Regions from separate parts of the Homo sapiens genome. Here all the other regions are reported to be linked to region 3. The links are microRNA targets in miRTarBase. Many come from high-throughput screens and were not tested one by one. Region 3 holds a microRNA gene; each other region holds the end of a gene's coding sequence.

The links. The annotated mature microRNA hsa-miR-210-5p reads AGCCCCUGCCCACCGCACACUG and lies in region 3 at 2,766-2,787, opposite strand. An mRNA with a match to its seed (bases 2 to 7 or 8) in the 3' UTR can be bound and repressed. Matches are read on the target gene's strand: a 7mer-m8 pairs with bases 2 to 8, a 7mer-A1 pairs with bases 2 to 7 and ends in A, and an 8mer does both.
Region 1: miRTarBase lists LARP1 as a target of hsa-miR-210-5p. Seed matches in the 3' UTR shown: 7mer-m8 at 3,207-3,213 and 7mer-A1 at 3,027-3,033.
Region 2: miRTarBase lists APBB3 as a target of hsa-miR-210-5p. The part of its 3' UTR that is shown has no 7-base or 8-base seed match.

Annotation. Positions count from the first base shown.
Region 1 is chr5:154,812,599-154,819,882 of GRCh38, reverse strand. It overlaps LARP1 (La ribonucleoprotein 1, translational regulator), which reads right to left. Exons shown (of 19, transcript NM_033551.3): 19 at 2,278-5,996. The coding sequence ends at 5,787. It overlaps FAXDC2 (fatty acid hydroxylase domain containing 2), which reads left to right. Exons shown (of 9, transcript NM_032385.5): 9 at 1-1,391. Among named protein-coding and RNA genes, the nearest start is that of MIR378H, 13 kb to the left of the region's middle.
Region 2 is chr5:140,551,990-140,558,989 of GRCh38, forward strand. APBB3 (amyloid beta precursor protein binding family B member 3) reads right to left here. Exons shown (of 13, transcript NM_133173.3): 13 at 6,279-6,832. The coding sequence ends at 6,596. It overlaps SRA1 (steroid receptor RNA activator 1), which reads right to left and starts at 5,484. Exons shown (of 5, transcript NM_001035235.4): 1 at 5,439-5,484; 2 at 5,158-5,283; 3 at 1-195. The coding sequence starts at 5,463. RefSeq lists a silencer at 4,044-4,193 and enhancers at 4,717-5,538, 5,404-5,763, 5,854-5,913.
Region 3 is chr11:565,385-572,668 of GRCh38, forward strand. MIR210 (microRNA 210) reads right to left here and starts at 2,814; the gene lies at 2,705-2,814. It overlaps LOC124902805 (translation initiation factor IF-2-like), which reads left to right and starts at 6,210. Exons shown (of 4, transcript XM_047428004.1): 1 at 6,210-6,260. The coding sequence starts at 6,210. It overlaps MIR210HG (MIR210 host gene), which reads right to left and starts at 3,073. Exons shown (of 2, transcript NR_038262.1): 1 at 2,968-3,073; 2 at 273-2,469. RefSeq lists enhancers at 310-864, 865-1,419, 4,005-4,755.

The DNA.
Region 1 (7,284 bases), not on the chromosome of region 3:
CACTTTGCCCCTTCCTGCCCCAAAAGGCTTTCACATACCCGACTCAGGCCAGAGCCAAGACACCCTGGCAAATCATTATAGGTCTCAATTCATGACATACCAGATGCCAGTCGCCACTTCACCCAACACACACACAAACATACACACACCAAACACTCTGAGTGAGTGGTAAAGGCCCCGTTTTAACTCTGGCCCACCGCAAACAAAAGGTTTCCCTCTGTGGGGGAGAAAAAGAAATCCAGGAGCTCCTCCCTGGATTAAAACCAACGAGGTGCAGACCAAACTTTAACACCTTTAGCCTTATGTGGAAACCAAAAACCAACTGCTGGGAAACTGTGAAAAGCCCTTTTACCCACAAGGGGAGGGGTCAAAGTTGCTGCCCTTTGGGGACACCCGAGACCCCTAATTAGCCTATCTGAATGAGGACCAAAGGTTAGAGCCCTCTTTCTCCCCGAAGAAAGAGCCCGGAAAAACATGGCAGAGCAAAGAGCAAAATCCTTTCTCCCCCGAATGCTTTACCAGTTTCTCAGCAACATTTATTCAAGATGATTTTTACCAGGAACCTTATCAAAGGCAAAACCACAGCTGCTTGGGTTGAAGTCCCCATCCTGGCCTCCTCTCAGCCGCCAGACATGGCCAGGAACCCTGTGGTTCCCAAGAACAATTTAAAGATCACTCTTTGATTTGAAAGACCACCATTATCATTTTACTAAATTCTTATATATACTTGTGCCTTTTCCAACTTTCAGTTCTCTTAAGAAAAACATCCACTGTAGCTTTATAAAATACCTTAGTATCAGCTAGGTCCAAGTCTCCAGGCAGGACTATCAAAATGGACTCCTTCTTCCTATCAGCTCTAGAACCCCAGAGGACTTGCCCAGTAGGCCAGCTGAGCACTTACCAGGCAGCATCTCCCTGGCCTTCCACAGTCTCGCCTGTCTGTCTCTGGCCTTGGTGGACCTGGCTCCCTCCCTAGGAGGCTTTTGCCCTCAGCTTGAATACAGTTCCTGGTGCATCAAAGCTGTAAGTTCTCAGCTGCTGGCCTGCACTCATCACCTCTTCCTACAAATAAACATTTGGAAAAAAGTCCATCTTCAATATGCTTAAAGAGAAGGGTAGGAGATAAGGAGAAAGAACAGATACGGTTTTTTTCCCCTTTAAGGCCTTTAGATTTTGAGGTACTGTAAGGGGCCTAGAAGGACAAAAGGCTTTCATTCCCTCTTCCTTTTGGCAGGCAGGTTATCAGTCCTTGGCAGAAGGGCCCAGCCCTATCCTTTTCTGTATCAAACAAAATCCTTGAGGTTGGTATACAAGTTAAGGCTGAAAAAAGGCCTTAAATTCCCAGTAAAGAATGTGAAAGCAAGCATGTAAAATAAACTGGTCTTCATGAATTCCAGTGGATAATTTTTTTTTGAAGGGAGGTGTCTACTACAAGACTTCTAATACTTCAGACATAGCATTTGGAAGCTCAGGCTGTGAAATTAAGCTGCTGTGAGCATTCCTAACGATAATTTGTGAAAGTAAGTTTCAATTAATTCATCTTTCTGTTTTCAAAGTACCAATCCGTCTGCATCAGCCCTGGACACTATCTCCTAAACTTTCCTTTGGCCTGTGGAGGTCACTGGTGGTACTGAAGTACCTGCCAACCTCAAGAACAGTGAAAAAGCACTCTCTGGAAAAACCATTTACCCAAGCCAGGTATGGGAGACAGTTGTCAGATGAACACGTAAATAAGGCCATGCCCCATTTTTAGTTTTGTAATTTATACGGGGAATGGGGGACTCTTTGTTCCATCCCTCCCCAGCATCACATCTCAGGGTTCGGGGCTGACCAGGATTCCGTAAGTCCACATGGTGCTGGATCATTCCTCCTTCACCCCCCTGTGGAAAAGTCTGTTCATAGAGGGGTTGTGGCAACCCTCCATAAGAAGCCTCATCGTTTTTCTTCTTGGCTGTCTCATAACACAATGCAGGCCACAGCCAGGGGATGGAAAACCTGGAAGCTGACAAGTGCGCTGAAATCCTGGCATTATGCTGGACTGCTGTTTTGTGGCACTGGCTATGACTGTCACGTCTCACTTAAGACACAGGGTGGACATGAACTCAAGGCTTGTAGAAGCCCCTGCCTTAGGCAGACTCCTCGAAGCCCAATGGCAGAACCCCTGCCGAGGTTTCATGTGCACATTGAGTGCAGGGTTCCTCCGGATCTGGGGGAACTCTACCAGAAACCCATCCTTCACACCCAATAGCAGTAACCTAGATGGAAGACCAGCCAGTATTTTGCCTTTTCAAGTGTTTATTTTTATACATTTTTTTGTATTAAAAAGAAAAGCATAATTACCACAAATTACAAAGGACTAAAGCAGGACTAGAATAATGAATGAATCACTTCAGCCTGGAAAGCAGATACTCTCAATAATATTAATGTTATAATACAAGCTCATTCAAGTATTTTACATTTTTTTGTCCTTTTAAATATGATATCCTAGCACATAGTAAAGATAATGTACTACGAGCGTAAGGTGGAACCTTCTCCGCAAAGCCAGATGACAAGTTTTCCTCTCCAGTGAGAAATGGGCTCCAAGTTCTTATCTTCTCTGCCATCAGCATGGCTGAAGGGGGAGAGGGTGGGTGTTAGGGAAAATCCAGGGACCCTTCCACACAGGAGGTACTCTGGGGTTCCATTCAGGAGGGTGCCAGATAATTCAGATCACTCTACCCAGGCTTTTTGGCAAAAAACAACCCTCACCCTCCGTAACTAGTCATCTTCCTTGTCCCTCCTCCTCACTTCCCTTCCAGGGCCTTCTAAGCAGCTTACTTTCTTTTGTAAAATCAATCACCAGGAAAGGGGAAAAAAAAAAAAAAAGAGCTACAATGGAACAAAACAAAAACATTTAACAACTTTGACACAGGGGCTCAGCACCTCTATCTGAGCCCCAGGGGTCCAGGCTGGGGCACGGCTGGATGGCCCTTCTCTACTGGTAGTGCCTTTGCTCCCAAGTGCAGGAAGAGGGCTAAAGAGAAACCTGCCCCTTAACAGGGCTGAGGCACACAGACCTGCTGATGTCTGATGCCCAGAGGTTATGTTGGCATGGACCAACCTTGGAAGGGATAGGATGAACAGAGGGATCTGGGCAGGCTGTTGCTTTATCTCAGGTCTTGGATCCCCATGGGACGATGGTAGGTGTGAAGTGGTTAGCCCTGATGGCCCCTGCCACTTCTGGCATGCTTGTCACAGATACATCGGTCCTAAATTCAAGTGTCTTCAGAAAGTGAAGATGTAAACTACTCTTTGCAACATTAACTCCTAACATGTTACCAAAAACAAAAACAAAAACAAAAACAAAAAAAAAGGAAAGAAAAGAAAAAGCTCCCCTACCAACCACCAGCCGATGTTGAGATGAAGTCCTCACCTCCCTGCCCCAAAGGGGCTTCCTTTCAGGGATGTCTGTGAAGAAGATGGCAGCCCCCTGGCCTGGGAGTAAACTCTAGGTAATAACAGCCTTTCCCCATACCCTAAGGCTTCCTTGTGCCCCAAACCAGCAGAGGAAAAACACTGAGGTTTCTGTGGTGCTGGATACAGTACAGGGCTGCGTGACCTGAAGGAAAGAAAGGAAAGGAGAAGGGGGTCCAGGAATCCAGTGTCCGGTACAATGTGGGGCAGGCACCAGACTGGGCAGGGAAAGGCCTCGGATACCACCATCATAGCAGAGACCAGACGCTCATCCTTGGTTTGAGACATGAAGTCACAGGAACTGAGATGGGCTTCCCACATACCAACCACTGGGAGGGCAAAGGTGGGGAAGGGCACAGGCTAAAAATTAACAAGGTGCCCAAGGTAAAGGGCAAGCCCTTGTCAGCCTGGGATACTGTCTCCTACTCCCAACCTTTGGGCCCAACAGAGGAACCAGTTGAAAAGGAGGGCCAAAGACATTGCAGTAAGTAAGCAACAGGACAATGAACTCCATGTTGCCCAGATCCCACTGAGAGTGAACGTGCAGTCATGCCCATAACCGACACACATCCCAGTCCATGTGGGTCAGTCCTTCATCACCCTCCCTGCCTTCTGACAACAGCAGACTCCAGCCATTCCATTATCATTCACAGCCCAACCCAAGCAGTCAGTGGCTGAAGAAAGAGAATCAGGTATACTCTATGTCCACATATACCTTCCTGCCACAGGGCTTCACCAACTGGCAGGATTCCCCCCAGCCCCCAACTCCTCCTCATCCCTTGTTCCCAGGCGGGTCAATTGGAGAGTGAGCAGAGATAGATGGCTTGCAGAAGGGTATGCAAGATGGGGAGACTCCACCAGACCTTAGGGAGAGAATGGCATCTTTCTCCACCTTTTAAGAGAGACAGAGCCTCCCTGAGGTCTCAAAGATTTTTCAGGGCAACACAAGAAACGTTTCCAAGCCTCAGCTGCAGGTGTTCACCTTTCCACTCTGGGGTGTGAGGAGATGGTAAGCTGAGGACAAGTGTGTTCCAGATGCAGGCCAACTCTGTTCTCCAACAGTTTGAACCAACTTGGCCTTGGGGTTCCAAGGGTAGGATGAAGGGTGTCACGGCAGGACGGGGCCTGGCGTGAGGCAACAGCAAGCAGAGCGAGGACACAACAGTGGCAGCAGTGTACAGACACAGGACGTCAGCTTCAAACGATGCAACAGCAGGGATATCTTGGGCACGGCTCTGATTCGAGCCACTCCCAACTCTCTTGCCTCCAGGATGGAGGCACTGTACATGCAACAGTCCAGAGAAAGATTCTAGCCAGTCCAAGCCCAGGCACATCCAGAGAAGGTGGGAGCTCTTCGGGTTGACTCCACCGAGGAAAACAGGCATTTGGGTATTTCAGATTCCCGCTCCACAATAAGGCAACTTTTAAAAAAATATTATTTCCAAAAACAAAACAAAAATTCCAAGGGGAGGGGAAAGACATTACTTTCTGTGGATTAGGTGGGGGTTTTCTGATTTTTTTTTTTTTTTTGGTCTTTTATGGTCGATTTTGTCTTTTTTCTTCTTTTTTCCCCATTTTTTCAAGGATGGAAAGGTCAGAGAAAAATAAAATAAAACATCTTTCAATAGTCTTTCCTGGTAAAAGCAGCGTCTCTCTGGGCTGGGGAGTAAAGGGTGTGGGGCAAGGGGAGTGGGGAGAGGCTGAAACCTTCCCCCAAACCCCAGTTTTAGATCCTTTGGTTTCCTTCTCCCAGAAGATGGCAGAAGGGCATGGTGGGAACAGCAGGGAGAAAATATGGTGATGACAAACCCCAGATGATCAAGGGGCTGATGCTCCTGGGGCCCAGAGGTACCACCAGAGCCTTCTATGAGACAGTGCTGGGCAATGGGGGGGCCCGCAGGGCCTTCTTGTGGGCTGCATAGTTGGCTTGAGGGGGAGCAGGAGGTTAGGGGTGGGGACCAGGGTTGCAGCCTACTAGCCTCGGGCAGGGCTGCAGAGTGATTTTGGTAATCCAGATGAACTATCAATAATTTAAAACTTGATATATATATATGTATATATATATAAAAATCTCCCCCCTTTCCCTCCCCCCTTAGAAGAAGCTAGGATGTCAAGAGTCATGGAGAGAGGAGGGGGAAGGGGATGTAGAGGCTCCTGCCCAGGGGTACCTCTGATAGCCCAAATGGTGTATACATTGCTACTCAGCACAAAGGCCTGTCCTAGTAACTCCAGGCCTGTCCCTTCATTGTCCCCTTTCCTGGGACTGGGCACCCCCATGGACTCTTACCCACCCTACCCCTTTCCCCCCTCAAGCCCCAGGGCTAAGGAGCTTTTCACTTTCCCAAAGTCTGTGTGTTCGAGTGCTGGCTTGTCCATTTGGCATCTTCCCGGACAGGCTGGCCGGTGGGTGGTGTAGGGGGTTGGCTGATCATGGCAGCAGGCCTGCTGGAAGACTGGGAGGGGCACCGCTTCCTGCCCTCACCGCCGCCACCTCCTGCTACCACTGAGTGTCGCTTGTGGTTGCCCTCCTCACCCATGGGGGGCTGCAACAGAGGAAGGAGTCACAGGTGATCAGAAGCACTATCTACGCCCTCTTCCTTGCCAGGCCCGTCTAGACACTTCCTACTTTCTACCTCCAAATATAGAAAATGAATGGGTTTAACCTTAAAAATAAATTATAAGTTATTAAGCGTTTCTTCATGCCAAGCCTTGTGCTGTTTTATGCACACTCTCTCATGGGGTCAGCATCACCCTTTGATGTGGACCCATGGACATCTGATTTTATAGATGAGGAAACTGAAGCACAAAAAAGTAACTTCCCCAGGGTCTCATAGCTGGTAACCGATAAAGACAAAATTTAGGTCTACCTGCCCCAAAAGGCCAGGCTTTTATCCAACCTCATTTCTGCTTCCCTTCCAAGAAGGGATCTCTTGCTCAGAAATGTGGAATGTGGCATGCAGTATGCTGCGACGTCTCAGCTCAGAAGGCCCAGATCCTTCTGGGGATCACCTCATTCTCTTCAAGGTCCAGAGGATCCTGAACTAAGACTCAGACCATGCTCCAGACTGGCCTTACCACTAACAAAGGTCTTATAACCCCGAAGACAGACGTTTCCTTCCCATTTTGGGAACCAAAACTGAGTCCTTGTTCCACCCTAATAGGTCTACTTATCACAAAGGTTCTCTGTGACTTGTACCCTGCTCCCCTCCCTTCTCCTCCTCAAGGGTGGAAATGCTTAAGAATAAAAGAAAACAGATTTGTGTTTATATTGAGAGACCTGAGTGGCTCTGCCATTATGTCACTGGATGGCCACGAACCTCAGTTAACCTAATAAGTCCTGTCTGCGTCACCACATAAGGGTTAAATAAGGTCAATGTAAAGTACCTGGCACATAATAAACACTTAATAAATGGCAGTTTTAAAATAATAAATGTGATGATTTGGCTGTGTCTCCACCCAAATCTCGATCTTGAATTGTAGTTCCCATAATCCCCACATGTCGCGGGAGGGACCAGGTGGAGATAATTGCATCATGGGGGCAGTTTCCCCCATCTTGTTCTCGTGATAGTGAGTGAGTTCTCACAAGATCTGACGGTCTTATAAGGGGCTTTTGGGCCGGGCGCGGTGGCTCATGCCTGTACTCCCAGCACTTTGGGAGGCCAAGCAGGTGGATCACAAGGTCAGGAGTTTGAGACCTGCCTGGCCAACATGGTGAAACCCCATCTCTACTAAAAATACAAAAATTAGCCAGGCGTGGTGGTGCGCACCTATAATCTCAGCTACTCAGGAGGCTAATGCAGGAGAATCACTTAAACCCGGGAGGCGGAGGTT
Region 2 (7,000 bases), not on the chromosome of region 3:
GGCCACGGCAGTCTTCCAATGCCTGTTCCAAAGGTCTCAGCACATCCTCCATCACAGCCTCAGACTCGACTGGGAAACTTGTGGGCTCCACGCCAGAGGCAGGACCACTCCCCACAGGTGGGGACCTGGGAGCCTTACTTGAAGGAGGTGGAGGCCCCATTGGGGGAGGCCCAGGAGAAGTCTCTGATGCGGGGACTGAAAAGGTACAGCAGGATCAAGCAACATGGCTTAAATGGGTAAGAAGCTTAACTCTAAATTCACCCCTTCTAAGAAGGGCTACTCTCTGAGACAACTTATTCATTCAAAAATATGCATTTATGAAGTCCCCACTCTACGCCAGACAATATGCTAGGCACTAAAGATTAGAAAAGTAAACCAGGTGGCCGGGTGTGATGGCTCACACCTGTAATCCCAGCACTTTGGGAGGCTGAGGCAGACAGATCACCTGAGGTCAGGAGTTCAAGACCAGCCTGGCCAACATGGCAAAACCCTGTCTCTACTAAAAATACAAAAATTAGCTGGGCATGGTGGCACATGCCTGTAATCCCAGCTACTCAGGAGGCTGAGGCAGGAGAATCGCTTGAACCCGGGAGGCAGAGGTTGTGGTGAGCTGAGATGGTGCCATTGCACTCCAGCCTGGGCAACAAGAGTGAAACTCTGTCTCAAAAAAAAAAAAAAAGAAAAGAAAAGTAAACCAGGCCTGGGCACAGTGGCTTATGCCTGTAATACTAACACTTTGAGAGGCCAAGGTAGGAAGATCACCTGAGCTCAGGAGTTCAAAACCAGCCTACGCAATATAGTGAGACCTCATCTCTATAAAAAAATTTTAAAAGTTAGTCAAGTGTGGTGGCACACACCTATAGTCCTGGCTACTCAGGAGGAAGTAAACCAGACAGATTAAGTTCCTGACCTCAGAGAGCTTAATTCTAGAGGCAGGGAAAAAAACACAAAATTACTAAATTATGTTACATGCTACCAAGAAATAAAATGGTTTATGCAATAAAGAGAAATGGGAGAACCTATCTAGACTAAGTGTTCAAGGAAGGCCTTCTGAGGTACATTTAAGTTTATCTGAGCTCACTTGCTATGTGACTTTCAGCAAGTTACTTTCAACTAGAGCTTAGGTTCCTCTTCTGTAAAATGGGGATGAATATAATGCCACTTATTTCACAAGGTTGCAATGAAGATTAGGAATACAGGTACAGGCTGAGTGTGGTGACACATGCCTCTAATCCCAGCACACTGGGAGGCAGAGGCAGGAGGATCGCTTGAGCCCAGGAGTTTGAGAGCAGCCTGAGCAGCATACTAAGACCCTCTTAAAAAAAAAAAAAAAAGACAGCTGCTAGACTAGTATGTAGCAAAAAGTACAAAATGAGCTGTTTTTATTAAATTGAGAACTACCGGATGAGATAGATGCAGCTATGAAGAGTTGAAGGAACATGTACTAGGTCGAGGTTAGAGCAGTGCCCAAGAAGCAGGAAAACTTTTGATTTGTTCAAGAGACAGTAATGAGGCCTGTATGGCTAAAAATTATTACCACTGAAGAAAGTAGTATGAGCTATCATTAGAGAGGTAAGCAGAGGGTCCAGACCCTGTGGGGCTTTGGAAGAGTTTGATCTTGAGTCAATGGTACTGGGAAGCCACTGCAGGTTTGTAAAAGCAAGGGGTGATGTGACCAGACTTATTTTTAAACATGTATGCTCTGTGAAAAACTGATGAAAACAGGTCAACAGTGGTGGCAGGAACACCAGTTGAGAGGTTGAGTAGTTCAGGAAAGAGATAATGCTGGCATGGACTAGGGTAAAAGAGTAGACGAGGGGAATGGAGTAGTCTGAGATTTACTTAGGAGGAAGTAGCAACAGGAGTGGATTGAGAGTGAGGAAGAGAGAAGTCAAGGTGACTCGTAGTTTCTGACTTAGTAATGGGAACCACTAACAGAAAGAAGACTGGAAGACAAAAGTCAAAAGTTTACTTTTAGGTACCAACATCCACAAGGATGATTAATTCATCTAATAATTTGGTGTTTCAGTTGACCTCTTCACCTCCAGTGATCATTTTTTCCCACCCTACATCAGCCTGTCATCCCCCTGCCTTGTTCACACTATCACCTCCAAAATCTGATCACCCCCTTACCCCTTCCAGCTCAGCTACTTTGATTTCAATGTACATTAACATCACCCCCTTATAAATATTTTTACCTCCTTTATCTCCTCCCATTGTCCCACTTTCCTGGTTAAACCCAACTTGCTTGCACTTGGGAGGGAAAACAGAGCCATGCTGATAGTTTAAATTCATGGCCACAGATTTTAAAAGGTACCAAATACTGCCTGGACATTTTGGCTCATTTTTTCCACTCTTCAGAACTTCTCTTCCTTTCCTTGCTATCTTCTTCTGACACTGCCTAATGTTTCATTGAAAAGTAGAGGTCATTAAACAGAACTCTCTCATCTTCCCACCACCATTCCTCCTAACCCACCTGCATCTGTGGCCACTTTTCTTCCTCTTGTAATAGATGAAAAGGTTCCTGCTCCTATCAAAAGCCATCTTACCAGCTGTACTCTGCATCCTAGCCTCTCTTGTCTTCTCTAGACTTCCCTACTGTAACTATCTTCTCTTGCATCATCAGCTCCCCCTCTCTACTGAATCATCCCGTTAGTGTACAAACATGCTCTAGTATATTACTATCAAAACACTCCCTTACTTCATGTTCCATTTTCAGATACTGTCCCATTTCTTATCTCTGCAGCAGCATTTGAGTGAGCTCTTTATAGTCACTCTCTCTACTTTTCACATTCTCTCCTCAGCCCATTCCAGCTGTTTCTGTTCTCACTACTGCAGAGACTTGCTCTTGTTATGATCACGAGTGACTGCTATGTTTGTCAAATCTACTGGTTCCTTGTCGCTCTTTTTTTTTTTATTGAGATGGAGTCCCAGGCTGGAGTGCAATGGTGCGATCTCGGCTCACTGCAGGCTCCACCTCCCAGGTTCAAATGATTCTCCTGCCTCAGCCTCCCGAGTAGCTGGGATTTCAGGTGCCCGCCACTACACCTGGCTATTTTTTGTATTTTTAGTAGAGACAGGGTTTTACCACGTTGGCCAGGCTGGTCTTGAACTCCTGACCTCGTGATCCACCCGCCTTGGCCTCCAAAGTGCTGGAATTACAGGCGTGAGCCACTGCGCCTGGCCCCTTGTCTCTATCTTGATGTCTCAGCAGCATTCATTACTATTGATTCATGTCTTTACGCTCTCCTATTTTCTTTTTTTATTTTGGTTTTGTCACAGAATATCACTCTGTCGCCCAGGCTGGAGTGCAGTGGTGCGATGTCGGCTCACTGCAACCTCCGCCTCCCAGGTTCAAGCGATTCTCCTGTCTCACCCTCCCAAGTAGCTGGTATTACAGGCCCAGCTAATTTTTGTATTTTTAGTAGAGACAGCGTTTCGCCATGTTGGCCAGGCTGGTCTTGAACTTCTGATCTCAGGTGATCTGCCCACCTTGGCCTCCCCATGTGCTGGGATTACAGCCGTGACTCACTGCGCCTGGCCTCTCCTTTTTTCTTCTTTGGCCATTTCCCAATCTCCTTTGCTGATTCCTTCTCAACCTTGAAATGCTAGAGTGCCCTACGGCTCTGTCCCTGGCCATATTCAAGCCCATGACATCAAATACCATCCTTGTAATGGTGACTTATTTCTCTAATTCTGGCCTAGAACATTCCCCAAAAGTAACAGCCTAAACTTCACATGGCCCCCCAAAAAAACTCCCCCTCCCCAAAACCACCATCCCCAGTCTTCCTATATCAAGCAAAAAAATTCAGTTATATGGATTCTTCCTAATCTACTCATTCCTACTGACCTTCTCCATCTCATATCCATCCAACTCCTACCACCCTGACTCCCACCCTTATGCAAATCATTAAATCTTGCCTATATTACCATAATAGCTGTAATTTGTCTTTCCACTTCCCTAAAATCTTGTTTTCACACAGCAGACACAGTGATCTTTCCAAAATGTAAATCAGTCCCTGGTTCTCAAGCTAGGAAGATAGTGCCCACAGGGCAAATGTCTGGAAACACTTTTGGCTATCACAACTGGGTGGATGCTACTGACATCTTTTGGGTAGAAGTCAGAGTTGCTGATTAACATAAGACACAGGAAAGTCCCTCACAAAGAATTATCTGGCCACAACCTATCAATACTGCTGAGTTTAAGAAACCAAGCCTTGTATCATTCTTCTACAGCAAAAAGGGTGTGGAGAATGGAGGGCCACTGAAAGAACCAAACCTGAGCCCCTTTATGGGGGCCACGGCACAGCCCATTTAATGGCTTGGAAAATTCTCGGGGGGAAAGGTGGCTCTCCTCTACTTTAAACTTTTCAATGGCTTCTAACTTTATGTAGATTAAAATACAAATTCCTCATCCTGCTTTACAAAGCCCACTATGCTGTAGCCAGCCACTCTGTATTTCATCAGTCTCTGAATTGGCCAAACTTATTCCTTTTGCAGCTGTTTCTTTTGCTTGGAATGCTTTTGTACATGATCTTTGTGTGGCTTAAATGTCAGCCCCTCAGACACCTCGTTACCCAGTCATATTACATCACCGCTTATTTTCTGTAGCACCCTCACCACTATTTCATCTTTCAGCCCATCTCCAGTGCTGCAACGTGGACTTCCTGAAAGCAGAGATCTTTTTTTTTTTTTTCTCACTGCTGTCTAGTTCGCCCTCAAACAGTGCCTGACTTATAGAAGTGCTCAGTAAATAACAGTGATTAAATGAATGAAAAACTGTGAAGTCTGACGATTATCATATACCTAAGTGAAGACAGAATGGACAAATGAATATGCCACTATACGGTTCTGGCAAGAGGTATAGGTTAACAAAGAAAAATAACTTCAGGATTAAAACTATATTAAAAGCCACAGGTCTGGATAAGATCATCTAGGATGAAAAAATAGTCTTTTTAAATCAATACACCATTTATTAACCTGAGCAGCAGAGAAGGGGCTCGGAAAAGCACCTGCTCTGAGACCCTTACTGGAGCCCCAAAACTTCTCTCCTTAAGGAGCCCTCGGGGAGAGAAAAAAGCCTTCCAAACAGGCTTATGCCTTACACCCCCCCCCCCCCATTCTCCGTCTGTCTCCGAGCACAGGGGCCCCACGCACCTCTGGGGGATCCATCCTGGGGTGCGGCGACCCTCTTGGTAAGCAGCGAGCGCCTGGGTCCGCCGGCCTGGGTCTGCAGCCCGTATGAGAACTGCGGCGGGTCGTTCCAGCCGCGTTCCTTGTTGCCTGCGGAGGCGAGGGATGTGTGAAGCGAGCCCGGAACTCCACTGTTAGCTTATACTGGGGCTGGGGGAGACAGAGGGTCCATACTAAGCGCCGCAACCGCCCCCAGCCTAGGCCGGGGCGACAACCTAGTGCCCTAGCCCGCCGGCTGCGCTCACCCGGCTTCACGTACAGCTCCGCCATCTCCACTTCCGCTTGGCCAGCGGGGCAGCGCGTCATTTCCGGGGCGGCCCCTCACGCGGGCCAGTTGAGACACGTCCAGGGCCAGGCGGGTTGCCGGAATCCGTGGAGGATGGATGCTGGTTCACAACCGTCGGGAGCCGCTGTGGGGACCCTGCGGCAACTCCCTAAGACTCGAAGGCTCCATCTAATGAACCATCAGGGCCCTGGTCACAAGGCACCAAAGGAGGTTGCTGTCCAGGAGCCAGTGCTCTAGGAGGCCTCATCCTCTCAGGAGCAAATTCAAACAAAGAAGCTCCTGCCCCACATACACCCCGCTGTGATCTAGCCAGGTTGACTTCTACAGCCTCCTCTTGCATTGCCCTGCACAATCTCCACATTCACGTCCGGTAGCCTCACTAGTACTCATCTTCCTTCAGTTCTCAGTTCAGATGTCAGTTCTTCAGGAGGCCTTCTGGAATGTCTCAGGCCAGGTTAAGTGTCTCACTTGAGCTCCCACGACCCTACAACCCTCTGAGATTTCGTAGGTGTATTACATCACATCTTCTGCCTTATTTGACTCTTGTTCGTTTCCCTGTCGGACAGTCTTAGAAGGTGGGACCTTGACTATTTTATTACATTCCCAGTGCCCAGCTTAGTGCCTGGCACAGGGAACTCCTTAGAAAATATGTTTGTTGAATGAAGTCAGATCTCCATCACACCCATGCTGTCATGTGACTACAGAGAGCCACCAACATCAAGCACAGACACAAAGACACTCATCTCACACAGGGTGTTAGCCCCCAGCCCTGTCCCAGGCCCAATATACTCACATCCAGTGAGGTCACTGAGGGATTTTTATTTGCACTGATTTTGCTATAAAGTGTTACTGAGGTAGAGCCAACTGTCCAGGGTTGGACAGGGGCAAGGAACACAAGGACCCAAGGAAAGGGGAGCCAGGGTCCTACGTTGTGGTGCAGTGCCTCCCAGTCATCCGTATAAACAATAAATTGGGCAATAAATAGACGGTGGACAAGGATCGGAGGGACAGGCAGAGAAGGCTTCAAGGAGTGACAGGCTATAGGCCTTGAGGAATAAAACGGTACAGAGTTAGGCATGGACCCAGAGCCTACTTCCCCAGCCTTCCCAGATAAGTTTAGGGCATATGGAGCAGAGAGGGTTTCAGCCGGAAGGCATCAAGAAAAGAGAAGACACCCCGCTTTCGAGGGGTTGCCCCTGCACCGCCAACCCCTCCTTTGAGCAGGGGGAGGGGCAGGGGACCTCCTGGGGAATCCATGGAGCTGGTCCGCTTGAGCCGCAGGCGGGCACGGGCCTGGGCACCCCAGGCCTTGCCTCGAGCTGCAGAGGCCACAAGACACTTCTGGTACTGAACCTAGGGAGAAGGGGAATGTGAGGATCCAGCTACTTTCTGCCTCTAGACTCCCTGAAAGCTTCTGCAGGACAGGGAACTGGCCAAAGCTTCTGTCTGATAACAAGGTTGGTAGTCAGCCACATGTGGAGTTTCTAGAGCATTCCCAGGTAGCTCAATAACAAAATCATA
Region 3 (7,284 bases):
TCCCAGCACTTTGGGAGGCCGAGGCGGGCAGATCACAAGGTCAGGAGATCAAGACCATCCTGGCTAACGTGGTGAAACCCCGTCTCTACTAAAAATACCAAAATTAGCCAGGCGTGTTGGCGGGCGCCTGTAGTCCCAGCTACTCGGGAGGCTGAGGCAGGAGACGAGCGTGAACCCAGGAGGCGGAGCTTGCAGTGAGCCGAGATTGGGCCACTAACTCCAGCCTGGGCGACAGATCGAGACTCTGTCTCAAAATAACAACAAAAAACAACTCACAATGTTTAAGAAAATTTATAGATTTGTGTTGGGCTGCATTCAAAGCTGTTCCATGGGCCAACAGTTGGACAAGTTTGCCCTAGATCATGGGGTCTTTGTGCTCTGAGAATGGGCGAGTTTGGGATGGACTCAGCTTTCTGTTGGTTGGCCCTGGATCTGGATCTGGTGCTGCCCCCTTTCTCTGGAGCACACAAAGGGAACAAGAAGGCCTGGACTTGGGCAAGGAAGCCATCCACAGGGCTCCCCAGAAGCCAGGGCCACCAGGAGCTCACTGCTGTGCAGAGGCAACTCGGCTTGGTTATTTCTTGCCTGAGGCAGGGAACAGGGAATGCAGGGAAGCCAGGCAGCAGCAGGAGGCTCCAAACGCTGGTGTCAGCAAGCCAGAACCCCCACCTGACTTCACTCCTGTCTGCCCAGCTCACAGTCGCCTGTCACTGGGAGGTCCTTGGGGCCTGGACCTGCCTGACCTGTGGCCCCAGAAGGGGCTAAGCCCAGAGTCACATGGGATGGAGCCTGGAATGCATAGGCCAAGTGGGTTGTGCCTGGGCAGCAGGCCTGGGATATGAGGGGCCTACTCCTCCATCCACAGCCCCGACCCACATTCTGGAGGGATGGTCGTACCTCTGTGACCAGCCCTCCACACCGTCACATAGGCCAGCAGGGGGCAATGCCAGGTGCCATCCAGAGCCCACCCCCATGTCCTCCCGGAGGTCATGAGCTCTGCCCTACGTACCCCAGCCCCACAATGGGAAGGAGGCATGGAGCTGGCAGAGCATGCGCCACGCCGTCCCTGTGTGTGTTTCTGAGGAACTCCTGTTCACTCTGAGGCCACTGCCTAGGTGCCCGTCCCTGGTCTGCTGCTGCTGGCTCTGATGAAGCTAACCAGCCTTCTTCCCCACCAAGAGGGTGTCCCAGCAGCAGCTATGGCTATGTTCCGGCGGGGGGAAGGCGGGGAGCCTTCCTCCTCACTGGCTGTTTCATTTTTTTATTTTTTTGAGGCAGAGTCTCTCGTCACCCAGGCTGGAGTGCAGCGGCGTAATCTCGTCTCGCTGCAACCTCCACCTCCCAGGTTCAAGCGATTCTCTTGCCTCAGCCTTCCAAGTAGCTGGGATTACAGGTGCCCACCACCATGCCTAGCTAATTTTTGTATTTTTAGTAGAGACGAGGTTTCACCATGTTGCCCAGGCTGGTCTTGAACTCCTGATCTCAAGTGAGCGATCACCCGCGTCTGCCTCCTGAAGTGTTGGGATTACGGGTGTGAGCCACCACACCCGGCCTCTCACTGGCTGTTTCAGGTGAACCAAATCCCATGGCCCCAAAAAGTGGCCAGAGTGCTTCAGATCACTCAGCAAACCTTTGAGTTGCTGAAAAGTTTACTTTTGAGTTTTAAACTGTACTTTGAAAACTATATTGTGAACTGTGTTGACATGAGGAAAGGCTGGGCTCCCTGAAAACATCCAGTTCCACAGCAGGGCGGGCCCAAGCCCAGCCAATCCCCAGGCAATGCAGGGCAGGGATCCCACCTGGTGTAAGTACGGGCAGAGGGCAGAGCCAGGCTGTATCGAGGGGCGGCGCTGGGACCCTCCTCGCCCAGAGTTCCTACTCATCCCCAGCACAGAAGTGCTCTGTAGGGCCAGCTGAGGACACCCCGGTTCACTGAGGGTGGCCCACAGTAAGTCGCCGTCTGGCAGTAAGTTAGCTCTGCAGGTGTGGACCCCAAGACCACACACAGCCTTTCTCAGGTGCAGGTCCTGCCAAGCCTCACTTCGCAGTGGTGACAGGCAACCCCGTCAGGGCAGGGAGCTTCCAAAGGCCAGTCCGAGTCCATGCCAGGCGTCCACTAAATCTGCCTCTCCCTCTCCAGCGAGCAGGTGCAGCCCTCAACTCCTGCAGGCCTGGGGAGCGGAGACAGGGCCTGTAGGCTCGGACACGACCCGGTCCTGATTTTAACAGTAGACTTGAGAAGGCAGGCTCAGCAGACAGGCTGCTGGAGGATCCACCCGCTGTCTCCCGCAGCGGCCCCACTGAAGCGGCAGAAACACACAGAAGCACCAAATCTGTCACTCTCTTCCCGTAGGAAGTCCCCAGAGGTGGCCCTCCGGAGGATGGTCCTGTTGGCTGAAGATATGACCACACCTGTGCCTGCCCAGGGCCACCTTCAGCTTGGCAACAGGAACTCCGCACACTGGTACCCTGGACACACAAGGAAAAGAAAGTTCCCTCCAAGAGGGTATCTGGCCCAGCCTCAGCCCCACCAAGCGGAGGGCAGCAAAGCCCCCGAATGATTTCGCTTACCCCCACCCGCCGTCCCTGCTGGCCAGACAGGCACACCCCGTCCATAGGGCACCCCCTCCCCACGGTATCCAGCTGCCCTCGCGTCCCCGTGTGGCCGCTCGCCTGCCCGCCAGACCCGGACACGGGGCCAGGAGGGTCGCGCTGCCCAGGCACAGATCAGCCGCTGTCACACGCACAGTGGGTCTGGGGCAGCGCAGTGTGCGGTGGGCAGGGGCTGCCCTGCGCCTGGAGGCACTGCCGGGTGGGCGGGCGGAGGGATTGACCCCACCCCCGTCCCCTCCAACTTGGGCGTCCGAGCCCCGCCGCGCCTGCCCAGCCCGACCCCCCGCAGCCCCCGCGGGAGGGCGGCCTCTGAGGGGCGCCCCGCCCGCCAACCTGGGATCCCTCGCGCGTCACCTGCGACCCCGGCGCGGGGCCGTCGCCGGCTCTCGGCCCAACTTCAGCTGCGGCCGCTGGCACCCTCTCGCCCCCCGGCCCGACCCGACCGGCCCCGGGCCCCGCGGCTCCACGCCCAGCCCCGTATGCAAATGACCTGGTCCCTCAGCCAATGGCCGGCCTAGCCGGGCCCGCCCTACCGCAACGCAGCCAGTGGGCGCGAGGGGGGTTCGCGACGCCCCGCCCACCGCCGCGCGGCCCTTCGCGGGCGAGGCCGGCGCGTTCTTTTCTGCACGTCTGCCCGGGGAGGGGCGGCACCTGCCGGGCGGGGCCTGCGGGGCGCCAGCTGCGAGGGCGCGGCGGGGCCAGGGCGCGTCCCCCGGCCGGGCGGATGGTACGGCCCGAGGTGGTCCTCCTCCCGCCGCGCGGTGGTATGGCCCGGGCTCGCGGGGCTTCCGGGCTGGGCGTGGGGCGCAGCCTGGCGACGGGTCCTCCGCCCGCGGGTGTGCGTGGGGCGGCAGGGCCGGCCGGGAGCTGCCCCTCTTCCCGCGGCGCGGTGGTACGACCCGGCCGCCTCCGTGCCCCGCACCCGCGTCCCGCGGGCCCGCCCCCCCCAACCCGCTGGGCGCCCGGCGCACGTATCCCGGGCCGTGACCCGGGTGGGGCCTGCGCGGGCCCGGACACGGCGTCCTCGGGACGCACGCACCACCCCCCGGGCGGCTTGGGGTCCCCAAAGGACGCCCGGGTCCGTCCTGCTGGCGAAGAGGGGGCTCTGGCTCTGCCTGGTTTGCCTGGCGACCCCCACGGGGCGCCCTTGGGGGCTCTGGGTCCCTCCTGCGCGCTCTGTCTCCGCGGAAGCCTCTGGAGCCTGGAGGGGGTGCCTCAAGGGCTCAGGGGTCTTCGCAGCCCTGTGCCGGTCTTTGAGGGGACGAGGCGAGAGAATCCTGTCTGTGCGCTGAAAACGTGTAAAATCAAAGGAGCCTTGACGGTTTGACCTTCGTTAGGACTCGCAGGGCCAGCTTCAGACGTGGAAGTATCGGACTCCGGGGTGGGGCTCCAAAGTGGCAGCCAAAGGAGATTTGGCCGCCGGCCCCCCTTGGCACTGTCACCCTGGTCCTCGGCCCCGGGCCGTCTCCCCTCAGCTCCCTGGCCCTAAACTCACCGCCCTGCTCTTTGTCCTCCCCTGGCCCCATGACCTCCCTGCCTCGGCATCCGCGCAGGCCTGGGCCGCAGCCTGCCCCCTGCCCCAGCCCCGGCGGCAAAGTGCTGGGGCCCCAGGGAGCTTCCGAACCAGCCCATGTCCTCAGGGGCTTGAAGGCTGGGGACAAAAATTCAGATGCAGAGTCTGGGGTGACTCAGACATGATCAGCAAGACATGACCGAGGTCTTGCTGACCCCTTGACCCTTGGCCCCCGATAGAACCGAGTGGCTCCTTGCACCTGTGGCTGCCTGTGGATGGGGAAGGTGCCCAGAGGATCACGGAGCCACTCGGTTCTATTGGGGGTCAGGGGTCAGCAAGACCTCGATCCTGTGGGTCGTGAAGGAGCCTCTAAGAGTCAGTGGGGTCCCTGAGAAGGCCCACGTCTTCATGGCAGGGCAGAGGCTCCTAGGGCAGTCAGACTAGGGGACAAGAAGGGGCAAGAGGACAGGGCAGCTCTGTGTTCCTGTCGTGCCCTGCTGACGTGAACCCACTTCTGCCCCCAGTCCTGCCAATTTCACAGGCACCTTTTCTCAGCATCTGTAGTGAGTGGGATGGTCCCTCCGCCAAAAAGAAGATATATCCACATCCTAATACCCAGGCTTCCTAAATGTGCCCTCATCGGGAGAAAGCATCTTTGCAGATGTCATTAAGGGAAACATCTTGAAACGAGATCATCCTGGACTTTCTGGGTGGGCCCTAAATCCAATGATCAGTGTCCTTATAAAAGACAGGGAAAACAGGCCGGGTGTGGTGGCTCAAGCCTGTAATCCCAGCACTCTGGGAGGCCGAGGTGGGCAGATCACCTGAGGCCAGGAGTTTGAGGCCAGCCTGGCCAACATAGTGAAACCCCATCTCTACTAAAAATACAAAAAAATCAGCCGGGCATGGTAGTGTGAGCTTGTAATCCCAGCTACTTGGGAGGCTGAGGCAGGAGAATCGCTTGAACCTGGGAGGTTGGCAGTGAGCTGAGATCACGCCACTGCACTCCAGCATGGGCAACAGAGTACGACTCTGTCTCAAACAGACAAACAAAAAACACAAAAAAAGAGAGAAGGCCGGGCGCGGTGGCTCATGCCTGTAATCCCAGCACTTTGGGAGGCCGAGGAGGGTGGATCACCTGAGATCAGGAGTTCGAGACCAGCCTGATCAACATGGAGAAACCCCGTCTCTACTAAAAATACAAAATTAGCCGGGCGTGGTGATGCATGCCCGTAATCCCAGCTACTCGGGAGGCTGAGACAGGAGAATCACTTGAACCTGGGAGGTGGAGGTTGAGGTGAGCCGAGATCGCGCCATTGCACTCCAGCCTGGGCAACAGAGCAAGACTCCGTCACAAAAAAAAAAAAAAAAAAAAGGCTGGGCGCGGTGGCTCACGCCTGTAATCCCAGCACTTTGGGAGGCCGAGGCAGGCGGATCACGAGGTCAGGAGATCGAGACCATCCTGGCTAACACAGCGAAACCCTGTCTCTACTAAAAATACAAAAAATTAGCCGGGCGAGGTGGCGGGCGCCTGTAGTCCCAGCTGCTCGGGAGGCTGAGGCAGGAGAATGGCGTGAACCCGGTGGGCGGAGCCTGCAGTGAGCAGAGATTGCACCACTGCACTCCAGTCTGGGCGACAGAGCAAAACTCTGTCTCAAAAAAAAAGGAGAGAAAGAGAAAAGAGACACAGACACAGAGGGAGGCCATAGGAAGCCATAGCCAAGGAACGCCTGGAGATGAAGCTGGGAGAAGAAGGACCTCCCCAGATCCTCAACAAGGAGGGTGGCCCTGCCAGCCTGGATCTCTGACTGCTGGCTTCCAGACTGAGAGAATGCCTTTCTGTTGTCTAAGGGCTCTGGTTTGTGGCCGTTTGATATGACAGCCCTGGGACACACAGACACCTGCCTTCCCTAGGTAGAGAATGCAGCCCTGCCTGTTCCCTCCCCCAGCTCTGAGAGTTTTGACTCCTTTGTTCTCTCCCCACCCACCTCCTCCAGCCACCCCTGCCCCTGCCTCCCCCAGGCATCCACCTGGCTCTGGGGCTCCCTGCTGCTGGGAGTGGGATGGGTCTCAGCAGGGGGCGATGACTGGGCTCATTGCCCACCAAGCCCTGTATGTGCACACGGACCTGATGGTGGGGTGGGGGGCAGGGGTGGGAAGGGGCTGGGCTAGGCCCTCCGGGATAAGCTGGCCTGGCGGGACAGAAGCAAGGGAGCTCCCAGCCCAGCTCCATCCTCCCGTGCACACCAGGAGCATGCACACCATGCTTGCGTCTGCAAGGGGCAGGGGCAGCACACGGCAGTGTCGACCAGGAATCTGGCCGGAGCCTCAGAGTACAGGTCTGTGTGAGGCTGTGTGGGCAGGATGCACATGTGTGCACACTGACACTAGCAGGTGATGGGGGTTGGGGGGTGACCCGTCAGTGTACGGGGGAGGTGACAGTACTGATGAGGGGGTTGTATACAGGAGGTGTCTGCCTGCTGGTGTGTGAGGCATCTATCCACGTGCGAGCAGGTAAGGAGTCATTTTATGTCAGGTGTGTGGGTAGCGGTGGGGGTGGGAGTCAGGAGGTATTGGTATGTGCCCCTGCTCTCATGCTCTCAAGTACCACCTATGCACAGTTTGGGCCTAGTTTGGCTCTGGGCAGCTGCCTGGAGATACTTCTCACACCTGAGCCTGAGTGCTGTCTGACATACCTGGGTTGGTTGTGCACTGACCAAGGATTATGCTCACTGAGGACGTCCTTCATGTCTCCATGTGGATGTCTGTGTTTATTTATTTTTTATTTTTTTGAGACGGAGTCTCGCTGTCGCCCAGGTTGGAGTGCAGTGGCGTGATCTCGGCACTGCAGGCTCCGCCCCCTGGGGGTTCACGCCATTCTCCTGCCTCAGCCTCCCGAGTAGCTGGGACTACAGGCGCCCGCCACCTCGCCCGGCTAATTTTTTGTATTTTTTTTTTTTAGTAGAGACAGTTAGCCAAGATGGTCTCGATCTCCTGACCTCGTGATCCGCCCGCCTCGGCCTCCCAAAGTGCTGGGATTACAGGCGTGAGCCACCGCACCTGGCGTTTATTTATTCATTTATTTATTTTTGAGACAGAGTCTCACTCTGTTGCCCAGGCTGGAGTGCAGTGGCGCGATCTTGGCTCACTGCAGCATC